Homo sapiens: one gene and its partner. The protein of the gene in region 1 interacts with the protein of each later gene in a biochemical or structural test. Each region holds a gene or a part of one and is shown in the gene's direction. Other genes may lie near its edges.

Region 1 (8,964 bases):
TTTTGGCAGTTGGGGAAAGGAATGTGCCTCAGGTCCCAGGCCCTTCTATCTGGGTCTACTGAAAACATACCCTTGTACTGTTAGCCAGCAATTTCCCCAACTTTTCAAGCATGCAGCACCTTCGCTTGGAAGGCCAAGTCTATCTCATTCAATTTTTAAATTTCTTTTAAACCCTGTGAATTAGACATCGACGAGTGCAGGATTTCTCCTGACCTCTGTGGCAGTGGAATCTGCGTCAATACACCGGGCAGCTTTGAGTGCGAGTGCTTCGAAGGCTATGAAAGTGGCTTCATGATGATGAAGAACTGCATGGGTAAGCACCGTGAGCTCTTCCTCGCCAGCTTGAAACCATACTAGCACAGACTCATTCGTGCGCATGACCTTTGCTTATCTCTGGGCTGTGAACGGCATGTGTGGCCAGCATCTGTGGTGAGAGAGAGAAGAGATTTAAATGTCAGACAGGAAATGCGCTCCTGGATAGCTCTCGGGGAGCCCCAACCTCTTGGCGCCTTCATGGCAATGAGATACTCAGATTGGATCCTGTTTATTCATAGAATCTAAAATCACACAGACTGTTTATTTAGGTGGGACTACTTTAAAATGCATGGCATCGTGTGGTGGCCCCAAGATTTGTATTCAGTCATGCCAATCCCATGTTATTGCTCTTATTTGTGTACTATTACAAACTCTTTTGGTATTCCCAACCTTTTAGCCCACTGTTTAATTTTCAGTATGATATAAGACCTACCTCATAGGATATAGTAGGTTATAAGTCTAAGATTCTCCTTCACCCTGATTAGCGTTACAGACACCAGGATAACTGACAACAATATATCATGAGTCCGTGGTGATATAAAGCAAATATTATGTATTTCTACCCCTTGTGAGCCTGCTGATTTCATGCAATTAAATTTCTTGAAAGCTTACTACCTTTAAGAGTAGAAATTTTAGTTTTTCTGTTGGTCGTAGGAAAAGTGAGGAAAGCGTTATCCCATCTCCTATGAAGCATCTCTCTTCCACTAACTCACACTCTCACATCAGATAATATTCTTTCTCCCACGCTGTATGTGTGAATATTTTTCCCTCAGAGTTCTTTAATGGATCTCACGTTTTTACCTTTCAGACATTGACGAATGTGAACGTAACCCTCTCCTTTGTAGGGGTGGCACCTGTGTGAACACTGAGGGCAGCTTTCAGTGTGACTGCCCACTGGGACACGAGCTGTCACCATCCCGTGAGGACTGTGTGGGTGAGTTTATCTCCTCAGCACATAAACCTGCCCAGCACAACTGGTAAAGACCAGGGATCAGTTCTGACAAACCTGTTGTTTGAGGAGCACATGAAATCTAGCTTATTAAAAGGTGGAAATTGAGATTCCCTACATCTGGATGCAGGCTGTGTCTTTAGTGGATGCTTGGGTGACACACTCGAATAAGCTGGCATTCTTCTGGTTGGCCTCTTTTTTTATAACAAGCCACGTGATTGGTCCCTGTGTGAGGAGCCCTGTGGAAGTCCTTGTGGTCTCATCCTCCATTAGGAAAAAATGGGAAAGCTACTGTGTGCGTTGTGCACCTTTGCCCAGCGTCTTCCCATCCACTCGGCAGACTCCGCTCTACGCCCCTGTGCCTGCTCACGATCGGCTTGCACATGTGTGAACATGGCGCTCCCTTAACCCACTTCTCATGGAAACACTGGGTTTCCTCATTTGCCCTGAGCTCTGTAGGGCTGCCAGAAAGGATATGAGAAGACTAATGACTGGTCTTTGGGCGTTGCAACCTATTGCTTTTCACAATACATGAAGATCTCTGGACTTACTATGTTCCTAGTATACTGGCTTTAAAACTTTGTTTTAGCCAGAAAGCATGTTCTTCATAGGAACTCTTTCTTAAAACCGTAAGCAAATAAGACAGCCTAAAATAGAACAGATTGCACACCAAATTTCAAAACATAATTTGAGCACACCTTTCCAATACACATATATTTATTTATAAGCCTTATGTATTGCTTTGCTAGTATATGAGGTGAATTTTGTCATAGATAAATAGATATTTTAAAATGATAAATGAAAAGGTTTTTATGTTCTTATTTCATTTTAATAGCGGTACAAAAGGCTTTTTCACACTAATAATTGCAGAATATTTATTCATGGTTGAACATATTGAGGTATAATGAGTCACAGATCTAAGTTTACTTTGTTATTTAGTTTTCGTGGATCTTACAGCTTAAAAACGTATCCCCCAAAGGAACAATGCAGAATATAAAATATATATTTCTGTATAATATACACTTAGTGATCATAAGCATAAACCCATGCCATATAATCTTCTTGGTTATTTTGAGAATTTGGAATAAATTTCTTGTTATATCTGATTATACTGTACTGTTTTTTACCTTACCTTATACCTGACAAGTAGTTTACATAAGGAAGTGTATCACCCTGCCATTTTCTTCTGTTATCTTGTGATTACATTATTGGTACTAGTTTATTTTTAAGGCACCTGCCCATATTATAGGGGTTAGTTTATTTTTAAACAGGCAGTGTGATTTGTAGATTACTATCCCGACACACAAAACATAACACAGTGTAAACAATTAAATACATGAGGGCCCTATTGTCATGCCTCTGTCTTGTGGAACCATCAGTCTTCCATCAGTATACTTCAAATCATGTAGGCAACACTTCACCATCTAATATAGACCAGGTGAGCGTGCCAGTGTAAGTTCATATATTAAGTAGTATTTAGCTTCAGTTCTGGCATATGTGAAATCTGTGTGGTCTAACATGATAGTCACTAGCCATATGTGGCTATGTAAATTCAGTTAAAATTAAATAACATTAAATATTCCTTAGTTATACTGTCCATATTTCCAGTACTCAGTAGCACATGCAGCTGTGTATTAGACCGCATAGATTTGGGAGCAGTTGCATCATTGTAGAAAGCTTTACTCAACAGTATTGTTGTAGATGGAAATAGAGAATCCAGCATTTTCTTTCAATCCCCCAGGAGAACATTTTACTTCCTCGTGAAGTACACAAACCCCTTTGGAGACCACTGCTCTGGTGAAGCACCTTTCTGATGGCTTTAGTGAGTGGACATTGTGTAAAGCATTACTTCTGTGTATCTTTTATAGATATTAATGAATGCTCCCTGAGTGACAATCTCTGCAGAAATGGAAAATGTGTGAACATGATTGGAACCTATCAGTGCTCTTGCAATCCTGGATATCAGGCTACGCCAGACCGCCAGGGCTGTACAGGTAAGGGGAGACCAAGCAGGCCTGAAACTCATATGTCTCAAATCAGCCTAGGAAAACTTTTGGCGCTGAATTATAATGAAGGCTATGCAAATCCTTTGTCCCAAAAATGAATGTAAGACTAGGGGCAGATCTCAGTTATTGTGTGATCTTGCAGCAGACTCACTCATCTTAATGTAGAAAATGCTCTAATCCCCATAGTTCTTCTATTTCTGAGTTAATCTTAGGGTACTGCACTTAAACATGGAATGCTGCCTAAAATGAAGGTGAAAGAACTAAGAAAGATAATGTTCAATCAACACACATAGTGGGGAGAAAAATTCAAAGCCACATTAGCATTATCTGTTTAAAAAGAAGAAAACTCCTTTTAAGGAAGCAGACCTGACAATGTGGTTGCAATGCTGTTTTCACAGATATTGATGAATGTATGATAATGAACGGAGGCTGTGACACCCAGTGCACAAATTCAGAGGGAAGCTACGAATGCAGCTGCAGTGAGGGTTATGCCCTGATGCCAGATGGGAGATCGTGTGCAGGTATAGAAAGGAAAACACACAGGTTTTGTACATCTAACTAATTTTTTCTTGAAAATATGGCTCCAGATATTACCAAGTGGAACCAGATAGAAAACAAAAACATTTGAGATTGATGAACGACATTTTTATTTTCATTTGATGCTAATTTTGTATCATCAGACATTGATGAATGTGAAAACAATCCTGATATCTGTGATGGCGGCCAGTGTACCAACATTCCTGGAGAGTATCGCTGCCTCTGCTATGATGGCTTCATGGCTTCCATGGACATGAAAACATGCATTGGTGGGTATCATAAGAAAGGATAAACATTTATACACACACATGCACACACACCCACATGCACACACAAGCGTGATAAAAGGAAGGCTTTTTCTGTTGTTATTTTAAAAATTCAAATCATTTTACTAGAACTGTAAAATCTCAGGAAGAATTACTTTTAAAAATGTCTAAAGGCAGGTTGTATATTTATCTATAACACGATGATTTGCGGATGGATTATATTTTAGATCTTGCCTGTGTATTTCAGTATTATGCTATTCAGTGTAGAAGATAGCTTTTAAATTACTGTGATGAGCACATACTAAGATATTGAAAATAAATTTTCTAGATGTCAATGAATGTGACCTAAATTCAAATATCTGCATGTTTGGGGAATGTGAGAACACAAAGGGATCCTTCATTTGCCACTGTCAGCTGGGTTACTCAGTGAAGAAGGGGACCACAGGATGTACAGGTAGGTTTCAAGCTTGTGTTCTCTGTATTTCAACTTCTCAGATGTCAAAGGCCAACTTTCAACATCATTTGTTCTCTGGCATCTCTTAGAGCGGTTACCTGCCACCAGACTGTGACTGTGTGTGTGATGAGTGTGTGACCTATAGGATGTGTGATGGATTTGGCTGGTCTCTGTGGTAGCACGCTGTCTGAGCCACCCACCGTGGGGCTGGCTGTGGGCTGTGACAGAGTGAGTGAGTAGGAGTACAGTCTGGTTCCCATGGCCCTGACCACTTATGGTCGTTCATGCAGCATCAGTCACTTTCTGAGTATGACTGCTGCCCGCTTGGAAGACATTCATGTACAAAGAGCACCAAAAGACCCGAGGATCCCGGTTGCCATTTACCTCTGCACTTCTTTTAAACTAGTAAAAATTAATCAAGTTTCATTGAGACTCTTTCCCTTTCTTCCTTTCTCCCATCTTTTCCTTTCTTGTTTGCTCTTCTGTTTGCTTTTGTCTTCTCTTCTCTGTGCCCAAATTGCCTTTCTCTTTTTCCTCTCTTCACTTTCCTTCTTTGCTCACTTTGCTCACTTTGTCTTTTGTTCCCTTTCTCTACTACTACTACTAACTAGTTTTAGCCTTTTGCATGCAGGTGGGGCTAGGATGTGCCGGGGTCAAGGTTTTGGATCACGTATTCCTCAGTGCACAATTTAAGACTTATGTGTGATATTTTTTCAAGGCAGGTGGTGGAAGACTTAAGAGTCCAACCCAGCCCTTAAGCTGACCCCTCCAGTAAGGGGCAGATTATAAAAGAAGGTGTTCTTTGCATGTTCACCACTGACAGGGTTGATGTGAAGCCAGTAGTGTGTGTGTGTGTGTGTGTGTGTGTGTGTGTGTGTGATTTCAGCATCTATAATATGTAATCGTTGAACTAGATAGAACACATTACTATTTATAGTCAAGAAAGCTTTGGAGAACCAAATCTACATAGGTTATACATACATATATAGGGATATGTGTGTGTGTATACAGACACACAAATACACACACACACACACGCACACACACACACTGGCGAAAGCATCTGGCTACTTTCCAGATAACATTCCCAGTGAATATTTTTCTATAATCTCAAATAAGTAGAAGAAATAAAAATATACACCTAAATGAATAGTTTTTTTTAAATTCTGTAAAATATTTATATTGATTTTTTAAATGACAAATGATCATGTAATTTTAAAGAGAATAAACTATTACTTTTTTTAAAAAGTTAGATTCTTATCTTCATGAAAAATATGTAATAAATATCAATAGGAAGGAATAGCACCATCTATTATTGGAAATAAGATTTCTCTTGATCTGTAATCGAATGTCCTCTTTATGGTGTTGTGTCTGAATCTGGGCAGGGAAGAAGGCCCCAGGATAATACACATACCTGCCGGGGAGCAACACTGCTGTGTCTCTCTCTCTTCTACTGGAAAGTGGCTGACAGTTGTTTCTAGGGAAGAACTTGTTTTATTAGGATCATGAATTTTCCAAGTCCTCTTGGAGCCTACAAAAATTAAAAATAAAAGTTAGTTAGGCTACTCTTTTCTCCATACGGTTGCATCTTTACTTTAAAATGTTACCTATACAAAAATATACTTGGAAGTAGAATTAATTAGTTTGTATTTTGATTTTCTTCTTATGAATTATGGTTTATCAGATGTGGATGAGTGTGAAATTGGTGCTCATAACTGCGACATGCATGCCTCATGTCTGAATATCCCAGGAAGCTTCAAGTGTAGCTGCAGAGAAGGCTGGATTGGAAACGGCATCAAGTGTATTGGTGAGTTTGCAAATGTAAATATCCTTTGCTAAGGCACAAATTTTTAAAGGCTCTTTTTTGCATGGTTGTAGAATCATGCTCTTCACTTTTATTAATTCCTTTATAAAAAGGTTATCTTAGTTGCAAGATAATTCCTGCCTAAGGGTGTCCTTTACCCTTAATATAAATTATCAAAATTTCAACAGTATGCCTTGGCACCTGTTTTTTAATGTGTTTTTGTTCAGTAAAAATTGATATGCAGCTGGTGATCCAAACACAGCTGTATGATGAAAAATGACTAGTATGTTCTTCCAATCTTTTCAAAGAAGTAATCAGTGAGATTTAAAATCCAGTGGAATAAATGGAGAGCAATGAAAAGGTTTTTTCAGATAACCTAATTTTTTAGTAAGTCATCAATACCACCATCTTATTAGAAAATAGAATTCTTCTTACAGGAAATTGTAAATGCTTTCTTGCATTCCAAGAGGTCTTATTTGAAGAAAAAAAATAGGCAAATTCTCCAAGTTTTATGGTTCTTGAGCCAGAGTCTAAGAAGTCTTTTATATCTGAGAGGGAAGGGACTAGAATATACCCTGAGTGTCATTCACAGTTTTGTGTAATATGCTTAGTGTTTCACATGCCTTACAATAAAGCATTTTTCCAACTAGTAAGAATTTCTAGGTCAATTTAAAACAGAAAAGAAAGCAAGCTAAACTCACTTCCCCCTGATAACTTACAAAAAATATATAGGCCCTCAGTAAGGATTAAAGAATAGCTTTAAGATCTCTTACCAAAACTATAAGTTAATTTGAATATATACTTTTTTATCCATTCAAATATTTCATACTTATCAAAAGTTTATGTACTGACTATAGAATTTGAAGTATCAGAGCTTCCAAATAACTGCTAAATAACATCCTGCAATGGCTTAGTGAAGTGCCAGCCTCTAGTCCAGCCATCTTTCCAGGGTTACTATCATAACTTTTCAACCATACCCTCATTCCCATTTTCGTAGCCCCATGTGCCTACTCTTTTTCTCTTTTTGGCCTCCCATTTTTATGCTTCTTGTCCATCTGTCATTTTGGCCAACTATTGCAAAACAGCCTGCCTCTGATACAAGACATTCAGCTGTGTCCAGCCTCCTGTGCTCCAGGATGTCACCCAAATTCATCCTCTCCTTTACATCTTCTTTCCCCTACTCTAGTCCCAACCAGAGAGAGTTTCTGTCTCTCTCACATGCCCTCGCTCTTCGTGTCTGCTGAATGCTAAAAGAATCCCCTCTGGTATGTTGGCTTGTTCCCTCTCTGGCCCTCCTGCAATCCATTCTCCACGTAGCAGCAGGAGGAAGCTTTTAAACCATGGATTCGATCTCTTCATAGTCTTCACTATAACCCATTGAATTCGGGATAAAATTCAGCTTCCCTCCCTTGGCTGCGGGTTTCCACTGTCTCTCTAGCTTCATTGTCCATCACCCTCTGTCTGGTGCATTCTGCTTTGCCACTCTAACCTCCTTTCATTTTTTCAGTCACACTGAGCTCTTTTCCTCCTTGGTGTCTTACCATGCACTCGTCCCTCTGCAAGGAATATCCTTCCCCACCTCTGTTCAGCAAGTTAATTGTTTCTCATCCTCAGGTCTGACCTTAACTAAAAACTACTTCCTCAATGGGGGCATCTTTGTTCCTGCAGCCCAAATCAGATGCCTTTTTTATTCTCTCATGGCACCTTGTAACTTTTCTTCATGGCACATATAGCAAGATTTAGTTTTTTTCTGTGTTTAACATCTGTCTTTTCTGCTCAACTAAGGGATTCCATGAGGTCAAGAATCATATCTCTGTTTCCTCATCTATTAAATAAACTTAAAAACTCTTTGTTAATTTTCCTGCTCTGAAATTCAGTATCACCTTCAGAATTGATTCTTCTACTGATAAGGAAACCACTAATAAAATTCACCCTCAGTAGAAGTCAGAATGAGATCTAACACTAATTTGCTTTAAGCTGTTAAAAAATTCACGTTGACTAGATATCTCACAAATTGCTTGAATTCATAATTTTGGCCCACATTTATAGCCTGGACATTGGACATTGGGTCTGAGAGCTTAGCGAATTAGAACTGTGATCCTGCAAACTAAAATGCCTGTCATTTATCCAGTTTATATGTAAATTAAGACAAACGATAATCTTTCCAGGTGCTTAAATGTTCCATTTTCATTTCTGAACTTTATTGCTGTGTTCTGCAGATCTGGACGAATGTTCTAATGGAACCCACCAGTGTAGCATCAATGCTCAGTGTGTAAATACCCCGGGCTCATACCGCTGTGCCTGCTCCGAAGGTTTCACTGGTGATGGCTTTACCTGCTCAGGTGGGTGACAGTCCTGAGGTGTGCTCTGACGGGATGGTCATAGAACACTCTATATGCTTCCTTATTTGAAGAAAATTATAATTAAAGGAGACAAAAGTAACTACCTCTTTTTTTATACTTGACTTGCAGGTGACTATGTATCTTTCTCTTACATTAAACACAAAAACCTGAATGACTTTCCAAATATATTGTTGGAAGTTTTCAAATAACGGCATTTGTAACAATCATGTACTGTTAATGACTCGCCATTTTATCTTACTCATTTGTAACACAGTGGTTAAAAAAACACAG
Region 2 (7,456 bases), on another chromosome or scaffold:
GTTACTTGGGCTGCCAGGACTTGGTGTTTTCAACTCAGAATTACAGCTTTCTTGGAACCTCCAACAACATTTTGAACCTTTGTGGCGTTTTTGTACATGTGCAGGTGTTGTGGAAACTACCCATTTGTTTTGAAGGGAGAGAATCCAGTTTAGCACACAATTCTCCATGGAACTTCCAGGCTTCCCTTTAAATTGATTGTGATGCTTGGATAGATATTGACACCATGACTAAGACCCATAATAAAGGCCCAATCCAAGGAGGCTCTGCTACTTCCAAAGATCTCCAAAGGAAGAGAGTTCTCAGAGTGCGAGTCTTGTGTGAATTTCCCTCCCTTCAAAGGTGCCTTAATTAATATCCTCCTCCATGGCAGGGTCTAAGCCTGGCCCCTCTTCTCAGCAGGTAAAGATTATTGGGTCACACTCTCCCTGCAGTAAGTTCAGACATGAAGGGTCGGGCAGGTGTGGCTCTTGGAGAGGGCCTGCCTGGGTCTTGGGAATGCTCCCCCTTGTCCTCCTTCCTGGGATCTGCAGATCCATCATCTACTGCCCCAACCCAGGGCTATATGCTAAACCACAGGAGCCTTCATGAAAATTAGAAAAGCACTCCTGCCTTTTTTTTTTTTTTTTTTTTTTTTCTGAGGTGGAGTCTTGCACTGTCACCTGGGCTGGAGTGCAGTGGCGCCATCTCAGCTCACTGCAACCTCCGCCTCCTGGGTTCAAGTGATTCTCCCGCCTCAGCCTCCCAAGTAGCTGGGACTACAGGTGCGTGCCACCATGCCTGACTAATTTTTTGTATTTTTAGTAGATTTGGCGCTTCACCATGTTAGCCAAGATGGTCTCAATCTCCTGACCTTGTGATCCTCCCGCCTCGGCCTCCCAAAGTGCTGGGATTACAGGCGTGAGCCACTGCACCTGGCTGAAAAGCACCCCCCTTAAGGTGCCTCTTAGGGTGGCTCAGCCCCTGGGGCTCAGGGCTTGGCTGGATTTCAGTTCCTCTCACCTCCTTGAGCAGGTGCCTGTGTGCAGCACCAACCACATAGCCATAGCTGTAACCCTGCCCCTACCCAGCCTGGGGCTGGACACGAGTGAGGGCTGATGGAGGGGTGGGGAGAGCCTGTACATGCAGCCAGCACACGTCGGGAGTTCCCAAGTGCTGGATCCTTCATTACATCATTTCCTTAAATTCTTACAGCTGCCCAACGAGGTGGATATTGGTTGCACCTCTGTATATTTTTTTCTTTTTCTAAATTATGAAAGATTTCAAACTCTCAGTGCTCCCATGTTCTCATCTATGCAATGGGTATGATGCTTCTTGATCCTTTCTCAAAAACTTGTTCTGAAAATCAAATCACACCAAGTGACAAAGTGCTCTGGAAATGTTAGGTTTCATATAGATCTTATCGCTGAACCCTCAAAGGCTCACTTTCTGGGGCCTCTGTTTTGAGACACTCACCCTGGACTCACCCAGCCCTCAGGGTTATGCATGGGTATGTCAGAACGTTGGTTTCTTGCCAGGCTACTGGTATTTGTGGGTGCCTCCTCCCCTAAAATCATTAGACTTGTGAGGCGGCAAGGATGAGTTGTGTGTGCAGGCACTCAGGGACGAGTCACAGCCTGGCAAGCTGGCCTGGACAGGATGACTTCATGGGCCTTTCCCACTTCTCATTTTTATGACTAGCTTTACTGTTTCATTTTGGCTTTCTCTCTCTTTCTTGCAGCTGTGGTGATTAGGATTTAGGGCAAGCATTTGGGATCCCTTTTCTAATACCTTTCAAATCCTGATTCAGCTGCAAAGTCCGGGAAGGGAGTAGAGAATGGGGGAGGAGGGACTCACCCTGGTGAAAGGCAGTAGCTCAGAATATCCGAGAAACTCCCAACAGGAATGCCCAGCCTCCACCCACTAAAGCTGGAGGCCTCTCATCTCATCCAATATCACCCTCGTACTAGAAACGCAAAAGGGATGAGTTTGTCTATGGACTCAAACCTTTACAGTCTTCTTGCTTAGCAGCTTAAGGCATAATTATGGTAGTCATGGTGGTAAGGGACTTAACATTTGCCTTTTTCCAATTTAACTGTGTCCTTTGTTGAAATATTTCTTAGTCAGGTCCCCTTTTCTCTATTTCCACTACTGTCCTAGGATTAGATCTGAGTCCCCCTCTCAATGAGATTAGTCCAGAAATTGTGTATACCATCCATCTTGCAAACCACTGCCAGACTCTGTTGACTTTTCATTATGTAACTTCCCTATGGGAGAGGTGAGTTACATAATATGATGCTAAGATGCCCCTCACTGGTGGCATCATGTACATATTTCTCAGTCTGAAAGGAAAGGTCTTTTTAAACTGGCTTCAGGCCATCTGTCCAACTAATTCCTGCCTGCAACTCCTAGTATACCCTCTACTACAAGGTCTCATCACTTATTCTGTTACCCACCACATTCATTCCGTCTTGGGCTTTGGTTCATGTGATCCACTCGATGTGCTCCTTCTCTCTAATCCAAACACCACGCATCTATAAGGTCAGCTCACGTCCCATCTCCTTGACCCCAGCCCATTCATATCCCTATTCTCTTAGCAGCTATTGTCAGGACGACACAGTTTTCATGCCAGTTATTCTTTCATGGTTTTATTAGTTAATTCTCCCCAGGTAGATTAGAAGCTCCTTAACTTTGGACCCTGTCCTAAGCTTCTGTTATATTCTCTGCAGTGCCCAGCCAAGCTTATGTGTCATGCAGTAAAGAATAAAATAATTTTGACCCTGATCAGGTGTTTGGTTACATAAAAACTGCATTGGCAACTTTCTAGAAACTAATATATTCATTTATCTTGCAAAAAGGATTGCTATCTGATTATAGCCAGTAGTCATGATCTTCCAGCCATGCACAAATATACCCTTATAACTTTCATGAGTGGGGAGGAAAATTGATGAAGGAGGTTTCAAAGGTGATCATCAGTCCCAGGATTTCCAACAATAGCCAGTCTGCCCTGGGTCCTTAACTCTCTTTTAATGTTTTTATTCTTATTTTTATTTTTTTAATGCAGTCTCACTCTTGTTGCCCAGGCTGGAGTTCAATGGCACTCTCTTGGCTCACTGCAACCTGTGCTTGCTGGATTCAAGTGATTCTCCTACCTCAGCCTCTCGAGTAGCTGGGAATACAGGTGCCGCCACCACACCCGGCTAATTTTTGTATTTTTAGTAGAGACAGGGTTTTACAGTGTTGACCAGGCTGGTCTTGAATTCCTGACCTCAGGTGATCCACCCGCCTTCCAAAGTGCTGGGATTACAGGTGTGAGCCACCACACCTGGCCTCTCTTCTAATGTATTTGACCTCTCCTCTTTCCCCAGAGAGTTCCTGTGAGAACAAGCGGGCAGACCTGGTTTTCATCATTGACAGCTCTCGCAGTGTCAACACCCATGACTATGCAAAGGTCAAGGAGTTCATCGTGGACATCTTGCAATTCTTGGACATTGGTCCTGATGTCACCCGAGTGGGCCTGCTCCAATATGGCAGCACTGTCAAGAATGAGTTCTCCCTCAAGACCTTCAAGAGGAAGTCCGAGGTGGAGCGTGCTGTCAAGAGGATGCGGCATCTGTCCACGGGCACCATGACTGGGCTGGCCATCCAGTATGCCCTGAACATCGCATTCTCAGAAGCAGAGGGGGCCCGGCCCCTGAGGGAGAATGTGCCACGGGTCATAATGATCGTGACAGATGGGAGACCTCAGGACTCCGTGGCCGAGGTGGCTGCTAAGGCACGGGACACGGGCATCCTAATCTTTGCCATTGGTGTGGGCCAGGTAGACTTCAACACCTTGAAGTCCATTGGGAGTGAGCCCCATGAGGACCATGTCTTCCTTGTGGCCAATTTCAGCCAGATTGAGACGCTGACCTCCGTGTTCCAGAAGAAGTTGTGCAGTAAGTCCTGCTCCTTTGTCACTCTTCTAGAGGAACCACTAGAATTCATTCATTCATCTTCAAGTGTTCATTCTGTGTTACTATGTCCCAGGTACTGTGCTGGCAATAGGTTTTCAACAAAGGCCAAGATAAACACAACGTGCTCCAGGGGCTTACACTTTGGCCAAGAGACACATGTTTTTATTTATTTATCTTTTAGAGACAGGGTCATGCTCTGTCACCCAGGCTGTAGTGCAGTGGCATGATCACAGCTCACTGTAACCTCAAACTCCTGGGCTTAGGTGATCCTCTTGCCTTAGCCTCATGAGTAGCTGGGACTACAGGTGTGCACCACCATGCCTGGCTTATTTTTTAACTATTTGTAGAGACAACGTTTCGCCATGTTGCCCAGGCTGATCTGAAACTCCTGGCTTCAAGCGATCCTCCTGCCTCAACCTCCCAAAGTGCTGGGATTATAGGCATGAGCACCCAGCTAAGACAGACATTAAATATATAATTATACAAATAAGTAACTATAGTTGTCACAGTGTAATGGAGGAAGAATTCAGGACATGAAGGAGTGTGCAACCCCAGGACCTTATCTAGGCCTGGATGCTCAGGGAGATTGCCCTGGGGAAGGGACACGTAAGCCCAAACCACAGAATGAGGAAGAGTAGATAGACAGAGTTTTTCTTCAGCACATGGAGCTGCCCTGGAATTCCCTAAGTTGGAATTCATGAGTTGGAGTACGGATAGGAATGGAAGGGCAGAAAAAGTAACATAATCTCTCCTTGGATGGTGTGGAATACCAAGGCATTTTTGCCCCATGGTGGTGCTGGCAGGGGATGTTTTCTCAGCTGACAAAGAGGTCCAGCGTATACAGAGGACCAAGGTGTGGTCCTGGCAGCTCCCCACCTGTTAAGATTGTAGGGGCCACTCCTCACCTGCCAACTCTTTCTGCAGGAAGATGCCTCTCGGAGCCCCTGAGCTGCATTCTTCTATGTTGGAAGCTTTCTTTCCTCTTTTGCTTTCTAACCCTCTTTTCACAGGGCTTCTCTCTCCCTTCCTTCCCACGCACTTTCCAGTTATCTCTACCCCTGCTGCTGCCCCCACTCTTCTCAGCAGGTCAGCCTGCATTCTCCCCAGTTTCCTGCCTCTGCGGCTGCCTTTTTGTTCCTTCCTCCTCCGGGAGGGCAGGGGGCCAGCCGCCCAATCCAGGAAACTCGCATCCTGATTTGGTAAACAATGTCCCACCCTGACTTGTCCATTCCCAGTGGTCCCTGTCCCCTCCAGCTACCATGAATCTTTGGTGGGGAAATAAAGGGAAATAATCTATTTTTAAATATCTATTTGTAAATTATCTATATGTAAATATCTATTTGTAAAATGTAAAATATCTTCCTAGAGCAGAGTGGAGAATGAGCTTTAGAGCCAGACTCAGCACCAACTCCCCAGGAGAGGGCACCCAGGAGGGGGTTCTCAGAATGTGACATATTCTAGACCTCTAAGATATAGCCCCCAGCGAAGAACAATGTGCTTTTGATGTGTATTAAACAAAATCCCCTGCTGAGAACTAACTTCAAAAAGCACAGAGATCTCATTTGTTCTTGACTCCGGAATCAAAAGATTTACTTAAGAAATCAATGCCATGAAGAAAAAAAGAACCTTTTTCCTTGCCATGCCACTTGGAAAGTGTTCAGAAGTGCCATTTCCCTGGCACTGCAGAGGCTGTGTTGTTGTGGTGTGTTGTGGCCTAAGTCAGCTGGAACACTTCAATCAGCAGAACACACTGCAAACATTTTCAAGGTTTATGACTTTAAATGACTTCTGCAGAATTTATGTTTCCCCTTTCCTGAAAATATTAAAAGGGAAATTGGTTCTGTAACCATTTTGACAGCTTATTCATTTGTGTTGGAAAATTTTAATGGAGGGGTTCTTTTTATAAGCCTTCTGTATTTATCAGAAAATGGAAAGATAACATGATAAGGCTGAGGAGCTACACAATGGGACTGACCGCCCCCCTCCCCCCACCCCCGCAATCCTGGTGTCGAATAGGATATACCAATGTGGACTTGTCTGTGGAAAAACCATCTCTGTGTGCTTTCTGGCAAGGCAGCAAAATGAAAAGGCAGTTTGGACTTTTCCTCCCTTCATCTTCTTTGTTATAATCTGGAAGCTCTAAGAAAACATTAGCGTTATCCCGCTTGTTCCTGTGCCTGAGAAATGAATCCCCTGTGAGTCCCCCCATCCACTCTGCAGGAGACAGGGCTGCTGTCTCTCACTGCACTGCACTGCCCGGCTTTGCTCAGCAGACTCAGCAGCCGTCTTGAAAGGCTGAAGAGGCCCCAGGGCCTCTTTATCAACTTCATGGTAAAGACTGTAGTAACTAACATTTATAAAGCACTTTCCCTTATGTTATCGCAGAAAGCCCCAGGAGGCAGGCAGCACACTCTTGCCACTCTCTTTTTACAGGTTAAGGAACTTGCTAAGTGAATCACCTGAAAAACAAATAGCCAAGAGATAGTTGGATGCTAATTCCAAACCTCTTGCTCATTTCACTCCTCTGCATGTTGGGAATTACAAATTCCTCTTTTAAGGTAAACCATTTTCTGGTGGCCACCTCCACAGTCCAGCCTGGCCAGGTAAACCTACTTTGCAATTGGCATTCACCTAAAATAGGTGAAACTCTGAAGGCAGCCTTCGTAGGAGGAAGAGGAGCTGACTCTAGTTGTACAATCTTGAGCAAATCCTTTGTGCTCTCTGAGCCTCAGTTGCCTCATCTGTAAAATGGGGATTTTATATGCAGAAAGTAGATGAGTGAACAGGTGTTGTAAATGGTAGAGCCCTATTCAGTGTGCACTGTGTTATGTATTATTACAATCAAATACACTGAGGACCGATGGGCTAGGCAGATGGCCTCAGTTTTGATCTGCACTCAAATGATCAGACAAAAATGGTGAGCATTTTCCAAGTTGCAGATGACATCTCTGAGGTTTGGGAAGTCTCATTTGTTCCTTAAACATTCATTGAACCTGTAAACCAAAAAGTATCTGAGACAAGTCCCAATCAATGTAAAAGTTTATTTTGCCAAGGTTAAGGACATGCCTGGAGAAAAGGAACACAAAATCACAGGAACAATCTGTGGTCTGTGCCTTTTTCCAAAGATGATTTTGAGAGCTTCAGTATTTAAAAGGGAGAGAGGGAGGGCATGGTCACATTACTGAATCCACATGTTGCAAGAGAAAAGGAGCAGGTAGGGGAACAGTCAATCATGTATTCCTCTAGTGCTCAGTAAATCAACACTTTACATAAGATAAGGTGAACATAGAGTAGCTACTTATGCAGATATTTAACCTTTTATCTGTAGCTATCTGCTTAGGAACAAAAGCAAAGGCAGTTTCTTGCATTACTCAGCTTTTAGCTTAATTTTTTTCCTTTTGGCATAGTGATTTGGGATCCTGAGATTTTATTTTCCTTTCACAAACTGTACCCCAATAATAGCTAATCTTGTCCTGTGCTAGGTACTTTCAAATACAGTATTCCACTTAATACTTAAAATAGC

The links. The genes of interacting proteins can lie anywhere in the genome.
Region 2: the proteins of FBN2 (region 1) and MATN2 form a complex in vitro, tested with the Homo sapiens proteins (one study listed by BioGRID).

Annotation. Positions count from the first base shown.
Region 1 is NC_000005.10:128,330,282-128,339,245, reverse strand, and holds part of FBN2 (fibrillin-2 precursor), read left to right. Parts: intron 1-184; coding exon 185-313; intron 314-1,123; coding exon 1,124-1,249; intron 1,250-3,132; coding exon 3,133-3,258; intron 3,259-3,668; coding exon 3,669-3,791; intron 3,792-3,950; coding exon 3,951-4,076; intron 4,077-4,401; coding exon 4,402-4,527; intron 4,528-6,211; coding exon 6,212-6,334; intron 6,335-8,550; coding exon 8,551-8,673; intron 8,674-8,964.
Region 2 is NC_000008.11:97,927,608-97,935,063, forward strand, and holds part of MATN2 (matrilin-2 isoform a precursor), read left to right. Parts: intron 1-3,345; coding exon 3,346-3,915; intron 3,916-7,456.